Homo sapiens: one gene and its partner. The protein of the gene in region 1 purifies or fractionates together with the protein of each later gene. This does not show direct contact. Each region holds a gene or a part of one and is shown on either strand. Other genes may lie near its edges.

Region 1 (3,232 bases):
GATGGGGTCCTTCTCCATTGCTGCTGACTCTTCCGCCTGGGACCGGAGCCCAGGCTGCCAGGGAGGGGCCAGCTCACCCACAGGGCCCGTCCTCAGCTGGCCGGGGGTGGGAGCCACGGCGGCTGGCCAGGCCTGGCAAGGGCACCGTGTGCCCGGGGAGCCTGGCCCACACCCAGCCCCGAGACAAGGGGCCCATTCAGGGCCCCCCGCCCCGCCCCCAAGCAGCCACCCGGATCCAGCCCGCAGAGGGGACACACTGGGAAGCCAGGGGTGGATCTTGGGCAACCACCAAAGACCTTATTGTTTCCCAGCCCCCCGCCCAGCACGTGGGCAGACGCCCCCCCACCCCCAATCCTCACTTGCCCCTTCCCAGGACCCGAACCGCTGGCTCCCTTCTCCAGCCTCTGTCTCAATTCCTCCGTCTCCCACGCTTTAAACCTCCCCAGTCTGCAAAAGATCTCAGGGGAGCCCTAAATGGCAGGCGCGACCCCTGAGTCTGAACACAAGCAACGAACGAGATGTCAACCTCCAAATTCAAGTTTCTTCAGAGTTTTTAATTATTATTATTATTTTAATAACAACCTGAATCCCAGAACTTCCAGATACTGTCCACACTCCCTCCCCTGGGCAGAGGAGAGGAGGCACCTCAAGGGAACAAGATGGGGGTGGGGTGTCTGCCGGGGAGCCTCCGACTCCCCCAAGCCGTCTACTGCTGGGGGGTCCCAGGAGGGAGGGTGGGGGTTGGTTCCCTCCCAGAGGGGGCTCCCTCTGACGCCCCGTCCTGAAGCCCTCCCTCCTCCATCAAGGCTGGGGATGATGAGGAGATGGGGCAGGGGCCGGGGGACCAGGCCATTACTGAGCCTTGAACTCCCACCCCGGGGACACGGGGACATTAAAGCTGCATAGGAAGAGGGGGCAGGCGGCTGACGCAAGGCCGGGCAGCCCCAAAGGCACATTGTAAGGGAAGGGAGGCTCAGACGGAGGGCCCATTGGGCGCAGGGGGCCCAAGCCGTGGGACCCCCGAGGAGGGCAGCTGAGCCAGCTGCTCCGGGCTGGCCAGGGCGCGCAGCAGCCCATTCTCCTGCTCCAGCGCAGCGTTCCGCTCCGCCAATTCCCGGATCTGCTCCTTCAGCACCTCCACCTCCTCCCGGACCGCAAACATGAGGTGGGACTTCACCAAGTCCTGGGGGCCCCGGGACAGGCACAGCGTCAACGGGGTGGGTGCCTCATCCCCTGCCCAGTGCCTTGAGGGCTGGGGTGGGAGACAGTCCCCAGTGTCCAGAGGATGAGGGACAAAGCAGGGAAGGGACAGGGGAAAAGGACGAGGGACAGAGGCAGAGTCAGGGCTCAAAGACAGAGATGGGGACCAGTAGCCAGACTAGAGGCTGGGCAAAGTCAAGGGTGGAGGTGGTGGCAGGAGGGGGCAGAGGATGCCCAGCAGCCCAGCAGGGAGAGGGACGGAGGAGCTGGGAGTTGGTGTTCCCTGGTAAGGAAGAGGACAGGGCTGGGGCAGAGGGATGGCTTAAGGGGGCCAGGACCTCCTGGGACCAAGATGGCTTCTCTTACCATGGCTTGCTCGATTTTGTTGTCAATGCCAACCAGGCTTCCGGAGCCACTGGAGAGACACAGGAAGGTGAGGGGAGGAGAGGAGAAGCCTTCCCAGGTGCTGGTTTCTTGGACCACAGCCTCCCGCCCACACCCCCCTGTACCTGTGACAGTAGAGAATGAGGGAGAGGAGGGTTTTGTCCATCCCCCTGCGGGTTGAAGGCCGCTGCCCAGGGCCTCCCAGGCCCCGGTGGGGCGGGGGCCCAGATGTCCCTCGGATGGGGGATGCACCCCGGGGAGAGCAAGGGGAAGAGGCACAGCCCCTTTTTCGGGGCAGCCCCGGAGCCATCCCCACCACTCGGGTCTCATAAGACGACACCAGGGACTTGACAGAGACCCCTGGCTGGGCCATGCCCAAGGGGAAAGGGTCCTTAGACACCCCCCCAATGGAGAGGGATGCAGTGAAGGGAATGCCTGGGGGGCTCAGAGCCCCCCGGGCAGAGCAGGGTCTGGCTGGTGCCAGGCAGGCAGAGAGGAGACAGTGCCTCGGGGGTGCTGGCCTGAAAGATATACACCACCCCCCCAAGGGCAAGGCCTGGCTGCTATTGGCTCCTTGGGGACACGGGGACCCCCCCTCCTTTCAGCTCCTCGGTGGGCGGGAATTCCCAGACACGGTCAGTGCCAGTGTCCCCTTCTCACCCTGGCACCAATCCCAGAGTGGAGGGGAGGGGGCCGGCCGAGGAAGTCAGCTGGTGGCTGGGCCAGGGGAGGGGCGTGGGGCAGAAGCCTGGGTCTGAGCGGGGAGTGAAGGGTGTGAAGGGAGAGGAAGGGGCTGGCCTTCGGAGGCCCCTCGCCACCTCCGACCCCATTCTGTCCCCTCCGTCACTCAAGGCCTTGGGAAAGAGGGTGGAGGTGGCTGGGGTAGGGGGCGTTCTGACGTGCTCGTGGTCTTCCATAGATCATGAGCGCTCTCCCACCAAAAAACCCCACAAGGCTCACATCATGGGTGACCCCTGGGATCTGGCCAGAGGGTCCCTGAGTCTCCAGAGAAGACCAAAAATGGGAAAGGTTACCATGGCAACAGAAACTGAGCCCAAAGCCCTAGAAGATGAATACAGCGTAAAGGCCAGGCGTGGTGGCTCACACCTGTAATCCCAGCACTTTGGGAGGCCAAGGTGGGTGTATCACTTGAGGTCAGGAGTTTGAGACCAGCCTGGCCAACATGGAGAAACCCCATCTCTACTGAAAATACAAAAATTAGCCAGGCGTGGTGGAGGGTGCCAGCAATTCCAGCTACTCAGGAGGCTGAGGCAGGAGAATCGCTTGAACCCAGGAGGTGGAGGTTGCAGTGAGCCGAGATCGTGCTACTGCACTCCAGCCTGGACGACAGAGTGAGATCTTGTCTCAAAAAAAAGCCAGGTGTGGTGGCTCACGCTTGTAATCCCAGCACTTTGGGAGGCTGAGGCGAGTGGATCACCTGAGGTCAGAAGTTTGAGACCAGCCTGGCCAACATGGTGAAACCCTGGCTCTACTAAAAGTACAAAAAATTAGCTGGGCATGGTGGGGGGTGCCTGTAATCCTAGCTACTCTGGAGGCTGAGGCAGGAGAATCGCTTGAACCTGGGAGGCGGAGGTTGCAGTGAGCCGAGATCGTGCCACTGAATTCCAGCCTGGACAACAAGAGCAAA
Region 2 (7,036 bases), on another chromosome or scaffold:
CTCAGTTCAGATGTCACCTCCTCCAGGAAGCCCCCCTATATACCCAGATTGGGTCAGGTACCCCTCTGGGCTCCTCTAGCTCCCTAGCTTCCTTGTCCCAACCCTGCCCACCCTGGACTGTCACTCTCTGAAGATGGGTATTCTGCCCTACTGGACTCTGAGCCCCATGAGGGCAGGTCTTGGGCTGTCCTGGCCACCACTGGGTCCCCAGCACTGTCCCGCACAGAGGAGGCACTCAGTAAGTGCATGAGGACTTATCAGCACCTGGGACAAGGCTCATGGAGGGGAAGTGATATGCCCAGGGCCACATATCAGGCCAGGAGCTTAACAGAGATTTGTTGTGGATTTTTGTTGTTGTTGTTTTTTCTGTTTTGGAGACAGAGTCTTGCTCTGTCACCCAGACTGGAGTGCAGTGATGCAATCATGACTCACTACTCCCAGGCTCAAGCAATTCTCCTGCCTCAGCCTTCCAAGTACCTGGAACTACAGGTGTGCACCACCACACCTGGCTAATTGTTTTTATTTTTTGTAGAGATGGAATCTCATTATGTTGCCCAGGCTGGTCTTGAACTCCTGGCCTCAAGTGATCCTCCCTCCTTGGCTTCCCAAAGCGCTGGGATTAACAGGAGTGATTAACAGAGTTTGAACCCAGGCCTGCTGAGTCCAGAAGCTGCGTTCTCAACCCCACCATTGCCCACTTTCCTCTTTGGCCCTTCCATTCCCCAGAACCGTGCCCCACCCATCTAGATCTATTCTCTCAAGGACCCGAGGTGGGAGGACTTACTGTGGGGCGCGTGGCCTGGGGCGCTGGGTGCGTCCTGAAGGATGACGGGCATCAGGGCCTGGCGGATGGCTGTCTCCCAGCCCCGGGCGGCCTCAGCCCCCTGCCCACTTGGCCCACCCGGAGTCCCGCCAGGCATCTCGCCCACGAAGTAGGTGGCATTGGCAGTGACGATCTCAAAGCAGTGTGGGTTGGTGCCCGGCGGCACAAGGCTGAAGTTCTGGGCGGACTCCACCGTGAGGATTTCTGACAGCGGAATTTCCTGCAGGACGTGGAACCAGCACAGGTGAGGATGCCAGGCAGACCTTGGAATTCTAGTGCTTACCCAGAAGGATACACGGGATCCATGTTGATAGGGATGGGCCTGGTTTGCACAGTGGTCAGACAAGTTCCCAGTAATTCTAAGCCTGTTCTCACTGTTCTTTTATAATTACTGGCAGAGGCCAGGTGCGGTGGCTCATGCCTGTAATCCCAACACTTTGGAAGGCCGAGGTGGGCAGCTCACTTGAGGTCAGGAGTTCGAGACCAGCCTGGCCAACATGGCAAAATCCCGTCTCTACTGAAAATACAAAAATTAGCCAGGCGTGGTGGTGTGCGCCTGTAATCCCAGCTAATCGGGAGGCTGAGGCAGGAAAATCGCTTGCACCTGGGAGGCGGTGGTTGTAATGAGCCAAGATCGCACCACTGCACTCCAGCCTGGGCGACAGAGTGAGATTCCGTCTCAAAAATAATAATAATAATACTAATTACTGGCAGAAGTGATATTGAAGCAGAGACCAGAAAGGTAAGAAGCAGCCAGTTGGCAAGGAGTAGGGGAACAGCATGTGCAAAGGCCCTAAGGAAAGGCTATGCTCAAAAGCCAAGCTGTATCCCCATCACATGGGCGGTGCCTGGACATAGTAAAAGCTTGATAAACATTTGATGGCCGGATGTGGTGGCTCGTGCCTGTACTCCCAGCACTTTGGGAGGCCGAGGTGGGCAGATGGCCCAGGAGTTCAAGACCAGCCTGGGCAACACAGTGAGACCCCAGCTCTACAAAAAATTTAAAAATTAGGCATGGTGCCACAAGCCTGTAATCCCAGCACTTTGGGAGGCCAAGGCAGGCAGATCGCTGGAGCCCAGGAGTTTGAGACCAGCCAGAGCAACACAATGAGACCCCCATCTCTACAAAAAATAAAAAAACTAGCCAGGTGTGGTGGTGCGCACCTGTAATCCCAGCTACTGTGGAGGTGGGAGAATCATTTGAGCCAGGGAGGCAGAGGTTACAGTGAGCCATGATCATGCCACTGCACCTGGGAGACAGGGCAAGAGCCTGTCTCAAAATAAATAAATGGGCTGGGCATGGTGGCTCATGCCTGTAATCCCAACACTTTGGGAGGCCAAGGCAGGCGGATCACAAAGTCAGGAGTTCGAGACCCGCCTGACCAACATGGTGAAAGCCCATCTCTACTAAAAATACAAAAATTAGCCAGGCGTGGTGGCACACCTATAATCCTAGCTACTTGGGAGGCTGAGGCAGAAGAATCACTTGAACCCCGGAGGCGGAGGTTGCAGTGAGCCAAGATCGCGCCACTGCACTCCAGCCTGGGTGACAGAGCGAGACTCCGTCTCAAAAATAAACGTTTGATAATAAATGGAGGAAATGAGGCCACACAGGGCTTTGCGGGCCACAAGGAAGAGCCTGGGCTTTGTCCAAGGGCCCTAGGAAGCCACTGAAGGCTTTTGAGCATCATCCGCTTGTGTGCGGAGGGCAGATGGAATAGAATGAGATGGAGACAGAGAACCAGGAAGGAGGCTGAGGGGACCCAGGCGGGACAGAAGGCACAGGGACTATGGGGTGGGAAACGTGTCAAAAGAGGAAGGAGGGAGGTAGGAGAGAGGAAAGAATGAATGACTTAGGCAGCCCATAAAACCAGGTGATGACATGGACACGTCGGGGGGGCATGGTGAGGACAGCATTATATTTTATTTTATTTTATTTTTTTGAGATGGAGTCTTGCTCTGTTGCCCAGGCAGGAGTGCAGTGACGCGATCTCAGCTCACTGCAACCTCCACCTCCCAGGTTCAAGCAATTCTCCTGCCTCAGCCTCCCAAGTAGCTGGGGTTATAGGCACCCGCCACCATGCCCAGCTAATTTTTGTATTTTTAGTACAGACAAGGTTTCACCATATTGGCCAGGCTGGTTTCGAACTCATGATCTCAAGTGATCCGCCCACCTCGGCCTCTGAAAGCGCTGGGATTACAGGCGTGAGCCACCACGCCTGGCCAAGGACAGCATTTTAGATGGTGTGGTCTGAGCAAAATGGGAAGATGATAAGGAACCAGCCATGGAAAGTTCAAGGAAGACGCTCCAGGGCAGGTAACAGCTGGAGTCCAGGTTTTATTACTCTAAGACAATGGGAGCCACTGGGGGGTTTGACGGTTTTAATGAAGACTCCCCTGGCTGTGGGGGAAATGACAGAGGTTGTGAGGTCAGAAGCAAGGACCCTGCAAGGAGAAGGCTGAAACCATCCAGGTGGAAGACAGTGGCTGGGACACAGTGTGGGCATGGGAGGTGGTGACGAATACGCACACAATGCAATACATTAATTATAAAGAAATAGTGAGGCCGGGTGCGGTGGCTCATGCCTGTAATCCCAGCACTTTGGGAGGCCGAGGGGGGCAGATCATGAGGTCAAGAGATCAAGACCATCCTGTCCAACATGGTGAAACCCCGTCTCTACTAAAAATACAAAAATTAGCTGGGTGTGGTGGCATTCACCTGTAGTCCTAGGGTGGGAGGCTGAGGCAGGAGAATCGCTTGAACCCGGGAAGCGGAGGTTGCAGTGAGCCGAGATCGCGCCACTGCACTCCAGCTGGGCGACAGAGTGAGACTCTGTCTCAAAAAATAAATAAATAACAAAAAATAAAGGAATAGTGAGAACAGCCTTAGAATTACTGGGAGCTTAATATATACCACGCCTTAAGCCAATTGGTTTAGTGGATTGGCTCTTTGAATTCTCGCACCAGCCCTGAGGTGAGTATTAGCATTTGAGGCATTTTGCAGGTGAGAAGCGTGAGGCACTGAGAAGTAAGGGAACCTGCCCGGAGTCCCCCTGGCTGGAAAGTGGTGGGGCCAGAATCGGATGGGCAGCACTTGCTGATGAGCTGGAAGCAGGGAGGCTGGGGGTGGGCAGAGGGTGTGATTTGCAGGATCTGTCTGGAGTAACTGGGGGTAGGAGGAGGTGTGGGAAAGTTTGTGGGCACAGCGGGAAGTCCGAGGGAGCTGAAAGCCCGGAGGCTTACCTTATAGTATCTGTTGGTCGTGTTGTTCTGGAAGAGCGTGATACACTTGCAGTCCAGGCGCCAATAGTGCCGCTTTCTCTGCAGAGATGTTTGAAGAGTCACGTGAACCGCCAGACTTTCCTGCCCAGTCCCTATCCCGTGGAGCTGCTTGGGGCTCCAGGTGCCTGGAGCACCACGTGCACGCCGTAACTCTAGCACCTACCCCACGCCGTAACCCCACCCCACCACACGCCCTAACCCCAGCCCCGCCCCTAGCCTTAACCCTAGCCCAGCCCCCACGCCCTAACCCCAGACTCGCCCCCACTTAGCCCTCTTCCTCCAGCCAAGCTCCTCCCCTAACTCTAGCCCCGCCCCTGACCTTGCCCTGAGCCCCGGGTCTTCCCTAACTCCTGCCCGTAGTCCCACCCTTACAGCCCACACTTCTAATTCTAGCCCCGCCTCCAGCACGGCCCAGCCCACTACTGGCCCCGCTCGCGCCTAGCTCCAGCCCCACCCACCTAGCCCCGCCTACTCAAGCTGAGCCGCCCCTCTTCCAGCCTTCGCTCCGCCGTACCCGGCCCCGCCCCGGCCACTCACCAGCGTGTCCTTGTTGCTGTAATGAACCACCCAACCCTCCCGCAGCGTGGTGCTGGATTTCCGCGTCGTGTGTCGCACCGATTGCACCACCCTCATTAGGGGGATGTACCCCAGGGAGCTGCGAAGGAAGAGGAAGGGGTGAGAAGTCACATGCAGAAAGTGACCATGCTGCTTGGGAATGCAGGGGGCATCTCTGGGAAACTAGGGAGTTGGGGACTGTTTTTGTTTGTTTGGTTTGTTTTGACATTTTCCCCCCAACACACACCCGGGAGTTGCTTTTTGTTTGTTTTTAAGAGGCTCGCTCTGTCACCCAGGCTGGAATGCAGTGGTGCGATCTCGGCTCACTGCAACCTCTGCCTCCCGGGTTCAAGCGATTCTCGTGCCTCAGCCTCCTGAGTGGCCGGGACAATCACGGTGACCATTAGGTGCACGCCACCACCCCTGGCTAATTTTTGTATTTTTAGTAGTGATGAGGTTTCACCATGTTGGCCAGGCTGGTCTCGAACTCTTTGCCTCAACTCCTTCCCTAACTCCTGCCCCTAGTCCCACCCTTAGAATCCCTTCACGAGATCCATCCGCCTCGGCCTCCCAGAGTGCTTACAGGTGTGAGCCACCACGCTGGCCCAGAAGGAGATTCTTGAGAGGGCTTCTGTAGTAGGCCTTTCTGAAGTCAGGCTGCCTAGCAAATTACCTAACCTCTTCATGCCTCAGTTTGTCCACCCAAAGGGGATGCTATGAGGAATGGAAACCTTTCTACGGAGCTTAGTACAGTGCCTGGCATACAGAGGACCTCCAGTAAGTGCTAATTGGTATTTAGTCCAGCAATTGTGGAGCCAGCTGTGTGACACTGGGTAAGTGATTCAACCTCTCTGGGCCTCACCTCCCTCATTTGTGCAGATGCTGTTAGTACAGTAAGGAAGGTCTACAGAGATTAAGTGGCCTGCTGGGCATGGTGGCTCATGCCTGTAATCCCAACACTTTGGGAGGCAGAAGTGGGGGGATCACTTGAGGTCAGGAGTTTGAGATTTGAGAGATTAAGTGACTTGCTCAACTCTGGAACCAACAATCTCTGGATCCCTGTGCTAGATCAGAACCTGGGTGGCCTTGATCACATCTCTTTGCCTGAGACTCAGTTTCCCCATCTGTGAAATGGGCTGCCTCTCCCCACACCCGCCACCCCCAATCCCTCAAGGTCCAACTCTTGACAGTGTATGACGGTGTTACTAGGCATTCCCAGGAAAGACGTGGGAGAAAGGGAACCTGCGGCTTCAGGCTGCTTGGGTTGGGAGGCACCGCAGGAAACACTCTGTCGTCACTGTGACTGGCTTACCCATCCCCTTTCTGTCCAACCCTCTTCCCCTCGCCCTCCCTGCTGCAGCTACATGGGTCTCTTTGCTGTCCCTGGAACACGGTGCCTCCACCCCAGGGCCTTTGCACTCGCTGTTGCCTCTGCCTGGAAGCCTTTTCCCCCAGAGCCCCACAAGGCTCCTTCCCTCCCCTCCCTTCAACTGCCACTTCCTCAGCGAGGTCTCCTTGAAGGACCCTAAGATAGCATGTCCCCCATTCTCCATCTCCTCTTGTTTTTATCACCATTACCAATACCCGATGCTATGGATGCATTTATTAGCTGTCTCCCCACTGAGGCAGTCAGCTCCAGAAGGGCAGACTTTTACCTCTTTTGTTCATAGCTGTGTGCTTGAACACAGCAGGTGCTCATTAAATATTTTCCAGTGCACCTGTGAGGGTGCCCCCTTACCCCTACCCCAGGTTTATCACCCCGTGGGGTAGGTACCTCATCGCCCCAGGAGGAAACCGTGGCACACAGGGAAGCGCCTAGCAAGTGAAGTGGTAGAGCTGGGATCTGGGCTGTCACCCTCCAGCGCCTGTGTGAACTGTGCTTTCTCAATAAACATTCACGCCACACCCAGATAGGAAGTGCCTGATCTGAGCCAGTCCTGTCCTAGGCACCTGGGAGGGCAGAAAATATCCTTGCCCTCATGCACCTGAGCTCACATTCCAGTGGAGCTGACTAAGTATGAACTCCGTGTATAGTTTAAAAATGTGTAGGCTGGGGGCACAGTGGCACACACCTGTAATCCCAGAACTTTGGGAGGCTGAGGTGGGAGGATTGCTTGAGCGCAGAAGTTCAAGACCACCCTGGGCAACATAGCAAGACCCCCTATCTTAAAAAAAAAAAAAAAAAAAAAAGAAGAGGAATATAGGTCAGGCGCGGTGGCTCATGCCTGTAATCCCAGCACTTTGGGAGGCCGAGGCAGGTGGATTACCTGAGGTTGGGAGTTCAAGACCAGCCTGACCAACATGGCAAAACCCTGTCTCTACTAAAAATACAAAAAAAGTAGCTGGGCCTGGGCGGGTGCCTGTAGTCCCAGCTAC

What was found. The genes of interacting proteins can lie anywhere in the genome.
Region 2: the proteins of TSC22D4 (region 1) and PRKD2 purify together in Homo sapiens (affinity purification with mass spectrometry; 4 studies listed by BioGRID and IntAct, with this or other methods). This does not show direct contact.

The regions. Positions count from the first base shown.
Region 1 is NC_000007.14:100,465,986-100,469,217, forward strand, and holds the end of TSC22D4 (TSC22 domain family protein 4), read right to left. Parts: intron 1,616-3,232; coding exon 1,567-1,615; intron 1,184-1,566; coding exon 974-1,183; 3' UTR 534-973; downstream 1-533. Other genes in the region: TSC22D4-C7ORF61 (uncharacterized protein LOC122198330), read right to left, coding at 1,567-1,615.
Region 2 is NC_000019.10:46,693,091-46,700,126, forward strand, and holds part of PRKD2 (serine/threonine-protein kinase D2), read right to left. Parts: intron 4,761-7,036; coding exon 4,643-4,760; intron 4,145-4,642; coding exon 4,067-4,144; intron 1,044-4,066; coding exon 785-1,043; intron 1-784.